2 linked regions of the Homo sapiens genome follow. The protein of the gene in region 1 purifies or fractionates together with the protein of each later gene. This does not show direct contact. Each region holds a gene or a part of one and is shown on either strand. Other genes may lie near its edges.

Region 1 (5,301 bases):
GCAAGAGTTGCAGCCTCCCACCAGGCAATTGGTATTTTTCCAGATGTAGTTAAAACAGTCAACTATTATTTGCCTTTTGTTGTTGTTTGCTGTCGTTGTTAGTATCACCATCTAACATCTGCTGGGAAATCTGGTTTAAAGAATTCCCTGTCTGGGATGCTTCCTACACTCAGGTTTGAAAAACCCCTTGGCCTCCTCCCTGGATTCCCACTGCTCACCTCCACAAGCCTGGGTGGCCCCATCCTCCAGAGGAAGGGCTCGCCACTGTCACCAGCTGATGCAAGTTCCTGTGTGGCGGCGTTCTTGCCCACACCCCTTCTCATCGTCGCAAGAGCCCTACGGGTCTGACCACTGTTACCCCCTTAGAGGGCAAGACTGAGGTCAGAGTGGTCCCATCACCCACACACAAACCCACATGGGCTGGTAAAGGTCAGGCAAGACTTTGACCCGTGTCCGTCTGGCCCGAGGGGCTCTATGCCACTTTAGGGGGTTCAACCCTGGCTCACCAAGGGCAAGGAGACACAGACTTGTTTTCAGCTTTTCAGAAGTTTTATTATAAAGAGATTTGAGAGAAGCACTGGGCACCAAGACAGACACTCGCCAGGGCCAGGAAACAGCTGCAAACGACGTCAAGAACCCAAACCCAAACGAAACCCCAAAACCACACACACGGTAGGATAAGCTGTAACTTCGTTCTCAAGGTTTCTTCATAAATAGACAAAAGTCGTCGCCGGCAATTTAAAATAGATGAATACATGATTAAAAGGAGAGCAGTGCTCCGGGGTGGCTAGCAAGCGTCCGGTCCTTGCTGTGAGGATGACGAAACGGTTTGGCAGCCGCTTTTGTGCGCGTCTCCCTTAAGATAAAACTTAAAAATGTGCTAAGGATCATATAAAATGCTTTTTACCTTAAAGGAAACTACTTTTTTCCCCCACAAAATAGTCTTACAGATGTCTTCAGCACAGTTCTAAAACACGTAGTCAACTACTTACACGGAACCAACAGTTTCTAGGTTTCGTAATCTTTTGTTCACACTGGAAAACCGATGTGCACATCTATGCCGGGGGCCGGCCCTCTGGCCCATGCATCTGGGGTGGGTGTCCGTTGGTAAGCGACCCCGCCAGGGGCGGCCCACCTGGGCTGGGGCTGGAGCTGGGGCCGGGTGTCCAGACATAGGGTACCGTGCGCAGGGCGAGGACAGGGTCCACAGTTACCCTGGAGCAAGCAGGTCAGCGGGCGGAAGGTTCCTGCAGGTTCTTTGGGCTGGTGGTGGGCAGTGGGCTGCCTCTGCAGAGTCTGGTGGGAGGTTGAGGAAGAGACTCAGCCCCCGGGCAATGGGTGTGTCACTGCTCTCTCCGATGGGCCACCCTGCCTCTGGCCAGGGCCTCTTTTCTGCTGTCAGCCCTTCAGGCTCTGAGCAGTGCCTTCCAGCGAGCCTCAGGGATGGTAGGGAGGCGGGATTAGGTGAGGTAGAGCGATTTGTCCCTGGGGAGCAGGCTGTGAGAGAGAGGAGGGGCTGTCAAAGCTGTTGGGTACCTCTCCGGGCCAGGGGAGCACCAGGACCCCTGCACTGTACGCCCCACCCCCACCCCTGGATTCAGCTGCCCCTCTGTGGCTGAATGAGGGACTTGCATCTGCAAGTCCCACCCCCACCCACCTCTACACCAAGCAGAACCAAACCCCTCCCGGAAACCCAGCAGGGGACCACCCGGTCCTCAGCTCTGGGTGAAAGGGCAGTAGCGTGTCTGTCTTTCATCGAGGCGCACGCCGATGTCACCATTGCTCTCACATGGGTTTTTAATCACAGGAATTTGTAAATCTCAAACTGAATTAAGGGAGGACAGGTGCTTTTTATGTTTTTAAAATACGGCCCTGCTGGGGTCTGACCTCCATGCTGGATGTGATGGGCAAGCCTCAGGAGGCTTGGACATTGTGTGACACTCCCCTACATACCCTAAGTATTCTGACTTTTGAGAAGGAAACTTAGGGACAGGAAAGGGCTGGGGTAGGAGGGTCTGCACCTGCTTGGGGTGCAGGGAAGGGATTCTTGCTGAGCTGAGTCCACCCACCCATGTAGAATCTCACTTCAGGCATGTCAGAAATGGGGCATGCGCGCTGGTCACTTGTTCAGTGTCCAAGGGCGCTGGTGGGTCAGCAGAGGAACCAGCCGTGTGCTGGGAGGCCGAGGCTAGGGCTGGGGGCAGCGTTTCTCAGCAGCAAGGTGGCCACCCGACAAGTGCGCTGTGCCTTCCAGGTTGTGGCGCTATCGCTGGGACAGCTGCTTGGCACTACGTCCCCCAGGTGTGGCTGCGGGACTCATTTTTGCCAAGGGAATGGGAACCTGGCTGGCGGGTTAAGGAGCAAGTGTCCCTCCTCACTGCACTCTCCCTCTCCTGCTGGCTGCGGTTGTTGAAAGGTCACTCTTCCCCAGAGTTGGGGTGGCGTGGATCCAGGAAGACTTTCTAGAGGGAGGTGTTAGCATGGGTTTGAAAGGTGGAGTGCAGGATAGGAACAGAGGCCTGAGACAGGAGGCCCACAGGAGGACTAGGGAGGACACTGGGGTGCAGGGAGAAGGGGTCTCTAAGGTGTCTGTAATTCCTTGGGATAGACAGTGGGTCCCTTCTCCCACCGTGTCCCACCGAGGTCCCCTGTCCTGCATTCTTAGCTGTTCTAGTCTTGGGAGCTGCCCTGCCCAGTGGGCTACACTCACCCCGGGGCAGCCCACAGCCAAGGGCTGACTGATGAAGGGTTCAAAAAGCCAGTTCCCTGACCTCCAGGTGGGAGCCACTCTAGCACCGTTCATGCTCCAGGGCTCCCATGGGATGAGGCAGAAGCAAGTCTTCAGCTGAGGCCACATCCCCCCTCAGCTCCTTCCCCCACCCTGTCCTGCCTCCCTCACCCCCTTCTCCTGCAAGCTTTCCCCAGTGCATCCCCAAAGGCACCCAATCCCTGCTGCCTCAGGCTCTGCTTCTAGGGAACTGGCCTAAGATGCAGGACTCATCTGTGAATGTCACGTGGAAGCACTTGTGAAAAAAACAGGAGCAAGGAAGAAGCAGCAAGACTGAAGACTAGTCAGTTTCCCAAGCAGGCCTCAGCATCAGGCCAGCAGAGTCCTTCCGGGGCCTGGCTCTGCGGTGTCATCTGAGATATCGATCCCCTCAGCAGGGCTGACAGTGACTGCAGGGTCCTCCCCTGTCCACGTTGCCCTTGGCCATTCTCCCATCCCTGGCCATCCTGTTCCCACTCTCCCTGGCTGGCAGGACAAAGGCAGGGACGGGCGAGGACTAACCTGCAGGTGCTGATGCCACACTCCCCACTGGGGTAGCTGCTGTCCCAGTCCCCGCTGCTGGTGGGGTTGGATGGGCCAGGTGAGCAGGATCCCGAGCTGCTGGGGAACTCAGAGATGTGCGGGAAGTCCTACAGAGTGGGAAGGAGGAGGCCATGAGCCAAGGAGAGATGAGGGGGCAGACTGTCCCAGGCCTCCCGGGGTGAGAGCCCATGTGTCCAAGGGTGTCCACACCAAAGAGATGCTGCCTCCAGGGCTGCTGCCTTGCTCCCAGTAGAGCACCTTTCAAAATGTTCAACCCTTGTCTTGGCTGAATCAGGGGCTGAAGGACTTGGCTTTCAGGGCCTTTCCCTTTCTGGGCCTCAGTTTCTCGATCTGTAAAATGGAATTACTGAACCCAATGACCTCTAAGGGCCATGTGAACCTCGTAGCAATCTCTGTGGAACAATTAGCGGGGGTAAGGTCTCGAAGGCTTTGGGAAGGGCCAGGGCTAGGGCTGAGGATGCAGGAAGGGGGGACTGGAGTATCCTAAGAGTCAGTCTGGCAACTCGTGAACTGTTCACTGCAGCCAGCACATCTCAGGTAAGGTGTGCGAGACCCACTTCCTAGATGTGGTAACTGAGGCTCAGAGAGGTCAGGTGCCAAGGCTGAGGTTATATCACTGGTGAGTGGCAGGGCCAGGGTTTGAAAGGGCAAAGCCGCTTCCCCTCCCCACACGGTCACAGAAGGGCTGTTCTGCTCTTCCCTGCTTACCTGTGGCCCTGGAGGTGAGGGGCTCATCGCCAGCTGCACCTGGAGTGCCATGGGGGTGGGCAGGACAGGGGGCTGGGGGGCTGGGGACATGCTAACAGGTGGACTGAGGAGGGCGCCCTGGGCGTGAGGGGGCAGTGACAGCTGCTGGTGCAGTGTGGGGCTGAGCGGGAAGGAGGGTGGCGGCGGCGGGGACGCACTGAGGCCTGGCAGCAGAGACTTGGAGCCCAGCGTCCGGGCGAGGCTGGCAGGGGAGGCCCCACTGCGGAAGGCCTGCAGGTCCGACGGCGTCAGGAAGGAGGCCAGGCCTGGCATGGCATACATGGGCTGCTTGGGTGGGAGCATTTTGGCTGGTGGGTTTGCCTGAGTGCTCTTGGTCTCACCTTGATCTGGGGAGCTCTGGAAGGAGACAGATATCAGTCACTGGAGAACAGAAGAGGGATGAGCCAGAACATGGGCTGTGAGGCCAGGAGGCTCTGCAACCCACTGACACGGCTGCTGGCTGGCTGTCTTGGGAGAGAGCTTGGACTAACCAGAGATAGCACAGGGTCCTTAGTCCCCTTGGCTCTGACCATCCAGTCACCTACTGCTTTTATCTTTGGGGGGCTCCCCTGCCCTTGGGGGAATCCATGCTCCTCAGCCTGGCCAGTGAGACAAGCACCATCCCACTGAGCCAGCTCTAATCATGCTCCTTCCAACCTCTGTGCCTTTGTAGATGTTTTTCCCTTGACTTTGAACCACCTTTTACTTGGCCTGTTATAGACCAGTTTGGATGCCATCTCTTCTGTACCAGGAACAACACCCACCTCCACTTGGGCCACGCATCCGCAGCCACACTTAGCTTCCTACGTTGCTGGTGTTGACAGAGGAGGCCGACGGTGTGGTGAGGAGGTGCCATATTTTGGGGTAGCGTGTCCCAAGCCCCATCAGCGGTCAGAAGTGAAGGCCACATAAAACTGGCAAAACTGGGTTTGAATCCTAGTGCGGCCACTTTAACAAACTGGATCTTTTCAGGCAAGTTGCTCAACCCCTCTGGGTGCTGGGTTCTTGTTGGAAGAAGCCAATGAAATGCATGTAAAGTGCCCAGAATGAGCCTGGCATGCTGTAGGTGCCCTGCAGACATGACCATGTAGGTCTGAGCCATTCTTTCTAAGACCTGGGGTGCCGGCCCTTCCCACGGGCCCCAGTTCTTGCTCCATTCCTCAAGTGGCCCCACTCTGATCAGGGCTGTGCCTGGAGATTCCGGGTGTTACCTTGGAGACGAG
Region 2 (7,036 bases), on another chromosome or scaffold:
ATGCAACTTCGGCAAAGTCTCAGGATACAAAATCAAGGTGCAAAAATCACAAGCATTCCTATACACCAATAATAAACAGCCAAACCATGAGTGAACTCCCATTCACAATTGCTGCAAAGAGCTTAAAGTACCTAGGAATCCAAATTACAAGGTATGTGAAGGACCTCTTCAAGGAGAACTACAAACCACTGCTCAAGGAAATAAGAGGACACAAACAAATGGAAAAACAACCCGTGCTCATGGATAGGAAGAATCAATATCAAGAAAATGGTCATACTGCCCAAAGTAATTTATAGGTTCAGTGCTATCCCCATCAAGCTACCATTGACTTTTTTCACAGAACTGGAAAAAACTACTTTAAACTTCATATGGAACCAAAAAATAGCCCGCATAGCCAAGACAATCCTGAGCAAAAAGAACAAAGCTGGAGGCATCATGCTGCCTGACTTCAAACTATACTACAAGGCTACAGTAACAAAAACAGCATGCTACTAGTACCAAAACAGAGATACAGACCAATGGAACAGAACAGAGGCCTCAGAAATAATACCACACATCTACAACCATCTGATCTTTGATAAACCTGACAAAAAGCAATGGGGAAAGGATCCCCTATTTAATAAATGGTGTTGGGAAAACTGGCTAGCCATATGCAGAAAACTGAAACTGACCCCTTACTGACACCTTATACAAAAATCAACCCAAGATGGATTAAAGACTTAAATGTAAGACCTAAAACCATAAAAACCCTAGAAGAAAACCTAGGCAGTACCATTCAGGACATAGGCATGGGCAAAGACTTCATGTCTAAAACACCAAAAGCAATGGCAACAAAAGCGAAAATTGACAAATGGGATTTAATTAAACTAAAGAGCTTCTGCACAGCAAAAGAAACTATCATCAGAGAGAACAGGCAGCCTACAGAATGGGAGAAAATTTTTGCAATCTATTCGTCTGACAAAGGGCTAATATCCAGAATCTACAAAGAACTTAAACAAATTTATAAGAAGAAAACAACCCCATCAAAAAGTGGGCAAAGGATATGAACAGACACTTCTCAAAAGACATTTATGCAGCCAACAAATGTATGAAAAAATGCTCATCATCACTGGTCATTAGAGAAATGCAAATCAAAACACAATGAGATACCATCTCACACCAGTTAGAATGGCAATCATTAAAAAGTCAGGAAACAACAGATGCTGGAGAGGATATGGAGAAATAGGAATGCTATTACACTATTGGTGGGAGTGTAAATTAGTTCAACCATTGTGGAAGACAGTGTGGCCATTCCTCAAGGATCTAGAACTAGAAATACCATTTGACCTAGCAATCCCATTAGTGGGTATATACCCAAAGGATTATAAATCATTCTACCATAAAGACACATGCACACGTATGTTTATTGCGGCACTATTCACAATAGCAAAGACTTGGAACCAACCCAAATGTCCATCAGTGATAGACGGGATAAAAAAAGTGTGGTACATATACACCATGGAATACTATGCAGCCATAAAAAAGGATGAGTTCATGTCCTTTGCAGGCACATGGATGAAGCTGGAAACCATCATTCTCAACCAACTATCACAAGAATAGAAAACCAAACATCCCATGTTCTCATTCATAAGTGGGAGTTGAACAATGAGAACACATGGACACAGGGAGGGGAACATCACATACTGGGGCCTGTCAGGGAGTTGGGGGCTAGGGGAGGGATAGCATTAGCAGAAATAACCTAATATAGGTGACGGATTGATGGGCACAGCAAACCGCCATGACACATGTATACCCATGTAAGAAAACTGCACATTCTGCACATGTACCCCAGAACTTAAAGTGTGTATGTATGTGTGTATGTGTATATATATATACACATAACATATATATATACACACACACACACCCAACATACACACACACACACACACACACACACACACACACACACACACACATATACACATAACATATTCTTGGTCATAAAATAATTCTGAGTACATTTTGGAAGATGAAAGTTATATGGTGTATGTTCTGTAATCCACAGAATTAATTAGAAATCAATAACAGTAAGACAATAGATGTCAATTACTGGAAATTAACATAATTTTTTATAATCATTGGGTCAAAAAACTCACAAGAGCCATTAGAAAATAATTTTAAATGAACAATAATGAAAATAATACATATCAAAATTTGTGGGGTGTAGCTAAATGAATGCTTAGAAGGAAATTTGTAGCCTTAAATACCTGTATTTGAAAAGAAGAAATTTCTCACATCGTTAACTTAAGCTTGTATCTTAAGAAACCAGAAAAATAAACCAAAAGAAAACAGAAACAACAGCAATCAGAAATTAGTGAAATAGAAAACAGAAAAATAGTAGAGAATAATTAATAAAACCAAAAGTACTCTTTGAAAAAAATTAATAGAATTGAAAAACGTTTTGGGGTATTGTTAAAGGAAAAAGAGGGAAGACACAAATTACTGACATCCAAGAAAACATTAGAAAACCCAATATCAATGAATGGAAGTGAATTAGTAATTAAGAACCTTTCCTCAAAGGTTCCAAGCCCAGACAGCCTTATTGGTGCGTTCTGTCAAACATTTAAGTTAGAAATTTGACCAATCCTCTACAAGCTGTTTGAGAAAATAATGAGAAGGGAGTACTTCTCAACTTATTTTATAAGGCCACTGTCACCCTCATTTCAGAAATCAGACAGAACTATTTTAAGAAAAGACAACTATAGCCCAATACACTTGTGAACATATGCAGAATTTCTTAACAAAGTATCAACAAATTAAACAATAGGTAAAAAGCATAAAAGCTTAAGTTATGTGGCCAAATGGAGCTTCTCCCAAGAATTCAAAGTTGTGTTAACATCTGGAAACTATTAAGCTAATTTCACCATATTAATATGATAAAGTTAAAAATCTGTGTGATCATTTTATAGAGATACAGAAAAAGAATTTGACAGTTTTATTTTCTTTTTCTTTTCTTTTCTTTTTTTTTTTTTTAGACGGAGTCTTGCTCTGTCACCCTCACTGGAGTGCCATGGTGTGATTTCAGCTCACTGCAACCTCCATTTCCTGGGTTCAAGTGATTCTCATGTCTCAGTCTCCCGAGTAGCTGGGATTACAGGCTCCTGCCAGCACATCCAGCTAATTTTTGTATTTTTTGTAGAGACGAGGTTTCACCATGTTGGCCAGGCTGGTCTTGAACTCCTGACCTCAGGTAATCCGCCCACCTCAGTCTCCCAAAGTGCTGGGATCACAGGCATGAGCCACTGCACCTGGCCTACATTTGACAAAAATTCAACAAACTTTCATTAAAAATATGCAGATGGCTAGAAATAGAATAGAACTTAGTTGATTAAGTAAATGTTATATAGAAGATCTACAACTTACATAATATTCAAGGGGGATGAAAACAATGTTATTCCTAACTTGTGAAACAAAGCATGTATGCTGCTGTTTACTTTCATTTAACTTTGTACTGCAGGTCTGATCTAGGGCAATAAAGCAAGAAAAAGATGTAAAAAGCATACGGATTGGAAACAAGTAAAGCTGCTCTTGTTTGCATACCACATGGTTGCATGTGTAGAAAATGCAGAAAAATAAGAGTGACTGGAACTAATAAATGAATTTAATAAAGTTGCAGTATACAAAGTCAATATACAAAAATCAATTGTATTTTTAAATACTAATAAGTACAATTAGAAAGTGAAATAAAACCCTCCACAATAGCATAAAAGAACAGTCTTGTGTCACTTAATGACAGTGATACGTTTTGAGAAACATGTCATTAGGAACATTGTGTAAACATACTACTTGGACAAACCTAGATGGTATAGCCCACCCCATACCTAGGCTATTTGGTGTAGCCTGTTGCTCACAGTTTACAAACCTGTACAGCATGTTAGTGTACTGAATACTATAGACAATTGTAATGCAATGGTAAGTATTTATGTATCTAAACATATAAGCATAGGAAGGGTACAGTAAAAATACAGTGTAATAATCTTAGGGGACTGCCATCGTATATGCAGTCCATCATTGACTGAAACATTGTTATGTGGTGCATGATTGTATGTAGGAATAAATTCAGTTAAAGATGTGAAAGATCTTTACACAGAAAATTACAAACATTGCATTGGGAAATTAAAGACCTGTATAAATGTAGAGCTATACCATGTTCATGGATTGGAAGATTTAAATGATTACGATGGTAGTTTTCCCAAAATTCATCTATAGATTTAATGTAATTCCAGTCAAAATCCAAATAGACTTTAAGAAGTAGACAAGCTGATTTTAAAATTCACATGGAAAAATAATGATCCTTGGTCTGATAACCAAATGTCAAAAAATAAATGCTTGATATAAATGCTCCTGAGACTGATTGTTCAAACTACAAGCTGTATCCTTTTTTTTAATTTTTTCTAAGAAATTTACTATGATCTGGAAACAATGAAAGGTTTTGGCTTTGAAAACCTTTCCTTGGAATGTCTGTTGGACCTCATAGAAATCTTCAGGATGTCAATGATGGACTTAAAATAGCTAAGCAAAACACTTCTAAAAACTGCAGCAAACTTTTAGGGGGTCAACTTAATAGTTAGGATTGGCCAAGTGCGGTGGTTCATGGCTGTAATCCCAGCACTTTGGGAGGCCATGGCGGATGGATCACTTGAGGTCAGGAGTTCGAGACCAGCCTGGCCAACATGGTGAAACCCCGTCTCTACTAAAAATACAAAAATTAGTCAGGCATTGTGTCACACGCCTGTAATCCCGGCTACTCAGGAGGCTGAGACAGGAGAATCACTTGAACCCACGAGGTGGAGGTTGCAGTGAGCTGAGATCATGCTATTGAACTCCAGCTTGGGCAACAGAGTGAGACCGTTTCCAAAAAAAAAAAAGTAGGATATATATATGTACAGACAAATAAAATTTAACTTTTCATGTAAATGATTTTAACTCGAGTTTTCAACAATTTTTTTCTTCTCTTTTTTTCTTTAACATACTTCCAAAAAATGCTACTACAGACTTTAGGCATGTGGTGAATGAAATGCTCTTAGGATTATTTTCACTTTGGGGTGATGGTGAGAGTGTATGCTTATCTGTGTTGAGTGTGTTTGATCTCTGAATAGATTTTATTTGTATTGATTTCATAGTTTATAAAAGGAAAATATTTAAATCATTTACCATCTTCTATTAATGGGAAATTTTACTCATTTTTATAGGGAAGAATGGACAGAAGCTATCCAGGCTGTAGCAGACAGACTGCAGAGGCAAGAAGAGGAGAGAATGAATTGTAGTCCAACTTCACAAATTGATAATATAGGAGAGGAAGAGATGGATGCCTCTACAACCCATCATAAAAGAAAGGTAGAAAATAATAACTTATTCCCAGCACAGCATTCATTTGTCTGGAAGAAACATATTAAAAGCTACCATTTGCAGAAAGATGTCAGCCAGTTTTCTTACGATATGTAAATATATTGGTGGGTCTTATTCACATGAATCTGAAATACCTGTTGTTGTTTAAAACCAAATAGGTGAACATTGTTTCAGTGATCCAGCACTTTAGCACTGAATGCTGATAGGGCTCATGTGTGACTGATGTGCCATCACACTACTTTATAATTTGCATTTTTTCCTTATTATTTTTAATACAATTTTAGAAACTTTGTAATAAAATGTTTTCCCTGATGATTTGTTCTTTTCCATTTCGCATTTCGTATTCTCCCGAAAAGCACGAGCAGTAATGGCTCGGATGTACTTCCTGATTGGTGCCCTCAGTCATAGTAAAGTCAGCAGGAAAGTGAACAATCTTGGAAACAATAACTCTTATTTAATGGCTGCTTCTGAGTCAGTAGGGAAATAGACTTTTCCTTCTCTCAGTGTTCCAGCATAATAAGTACGAATTTATATTTTTATGAGCAATATAAATTTTTTCATTGCAATAGAAAATTGAAAAGCAATTTCCTTATTACAAAAATGATATTTTCATGATTAAAGATAGAGGTGTTGAGATAAGCTTGCCATTTATCACTTTAGAATATGTTTGATTTAATAGGTTGTAAATTAATCTTCAGGGAGGAAAACACAAATTTTCAAGGTATTATCCATGAAATTTGGTATTAGCACAGTGATTAAGAACTCTTTGGAGATAGACTGCCTGAGTTCATATCCTCCCTTTTCCACGTTAAACTTGTGGACTTGGTGAAGTTACACACTCACAACATAAAGTTAATTATCCTTTCCTTATGTGAATAAGAATAATATTCTATACTTGATCTGGGCCAAATGTCTGAGATCCCTTTCTGTCTTCATTGTAGATTTCTACTCTGTTTGTTTGTTGAACTGAATCCCTCTTTTCTTTTACGTCAATTTAATCTGCCTTGTTCCTCCATCATTGCAAAAAGAAAAACAAAGTCTAGCTACACCCACCTACCTACTCAGAGATAAGAAAGCTTCTTTTGTACATGTGTAAATTATTTCATTTAAAATGAAATGAAGAATAGTGTAAATCTGATATGGTTAAGTATTTGAACCCCAAATTCAAAATACCTCTATGGATTTTTCTTTTTGGAGACTCAGTTGGAGTAAAAAATTCTAAGAGAAGATGTTTTAGAGTGATGTTTATGTTTAATTATCTTTATGTGGACAAAGAATAGTAGCTAACTTTAATAGCTAATATTTATTGAGCACGTATTACATAAACACTTTAAACATTTTTTTTTTCATTTTGAACTTCAACTATAAGTTAAGTACCATTATTATTCCTGTTTTATAGTTAAGGGAAATAAAGGATGGAAGGATTAAGAAATTTTCCCCTTAATTACACACAGGGTGGGAGCCAGTACTTAACCCCAGGCAGTAAGATCTGAACTCCTCCCTTTCTAGCACTAGGTTGTGATAGTAAAGTTCTACTGGTTTTTTCAAGAATTTACAAGCTTTATTATCAATTGAAATTAACTAATATCCAAATGTCATATAAGGACAACAGTTTTTCATAATATTTTGAGAAACAGAGTATAGT

Evidence for each region. Proteins that work in one complex are often made in the same cells at the same time.
Region 2: the proteins of TOX2 (region 1) and AKT3 purify together in Homo sapiens (affinity purification with mass spectrometry; 2 studies listed by BioGRID and IntAct, with this or other methods). This does not show direct contact.

What each region holds. Positions count from the first base shown.
Region 1 is NC_000020.11:44,064,846-44,070,146, reverse strand, and holds the end of TOX2 (TOX high mobility group box family member 2), read right to left. Parts: coding exon 5,290-5,301; intron 4,436-5,289; coding exon 4,040-4,435; intron 3,418-4,039; coding exon 3,290-3,417; intron 1,498-3,289; coding exon 1,461-1,497; 3' UTR 531-1,460; downstream 1-530. UniProt on the Homo sapiens protein: Putative transcriptional activator involved in the hypothalamo-pituitary-gonadal system.
Region 2 is NC_000001.11:243,644,236-243,651,271, reverse strand, and holds part of AKT3 (RAC-gamma serine/threonine-protein kinase), read left to right. Parts: intron 1-5,234; coding exon 5,235-5,379; intron 5,380-7,036. UniProt on the Homo sapiens protein: AKT3 is one of 3 closely related serine/threonine-protein kinases (AKT1, AKT2 and AKT3) called the AKT kinase, and which regulate many processes including metabolism, proliferation, cell survival, growth and angiogenesis.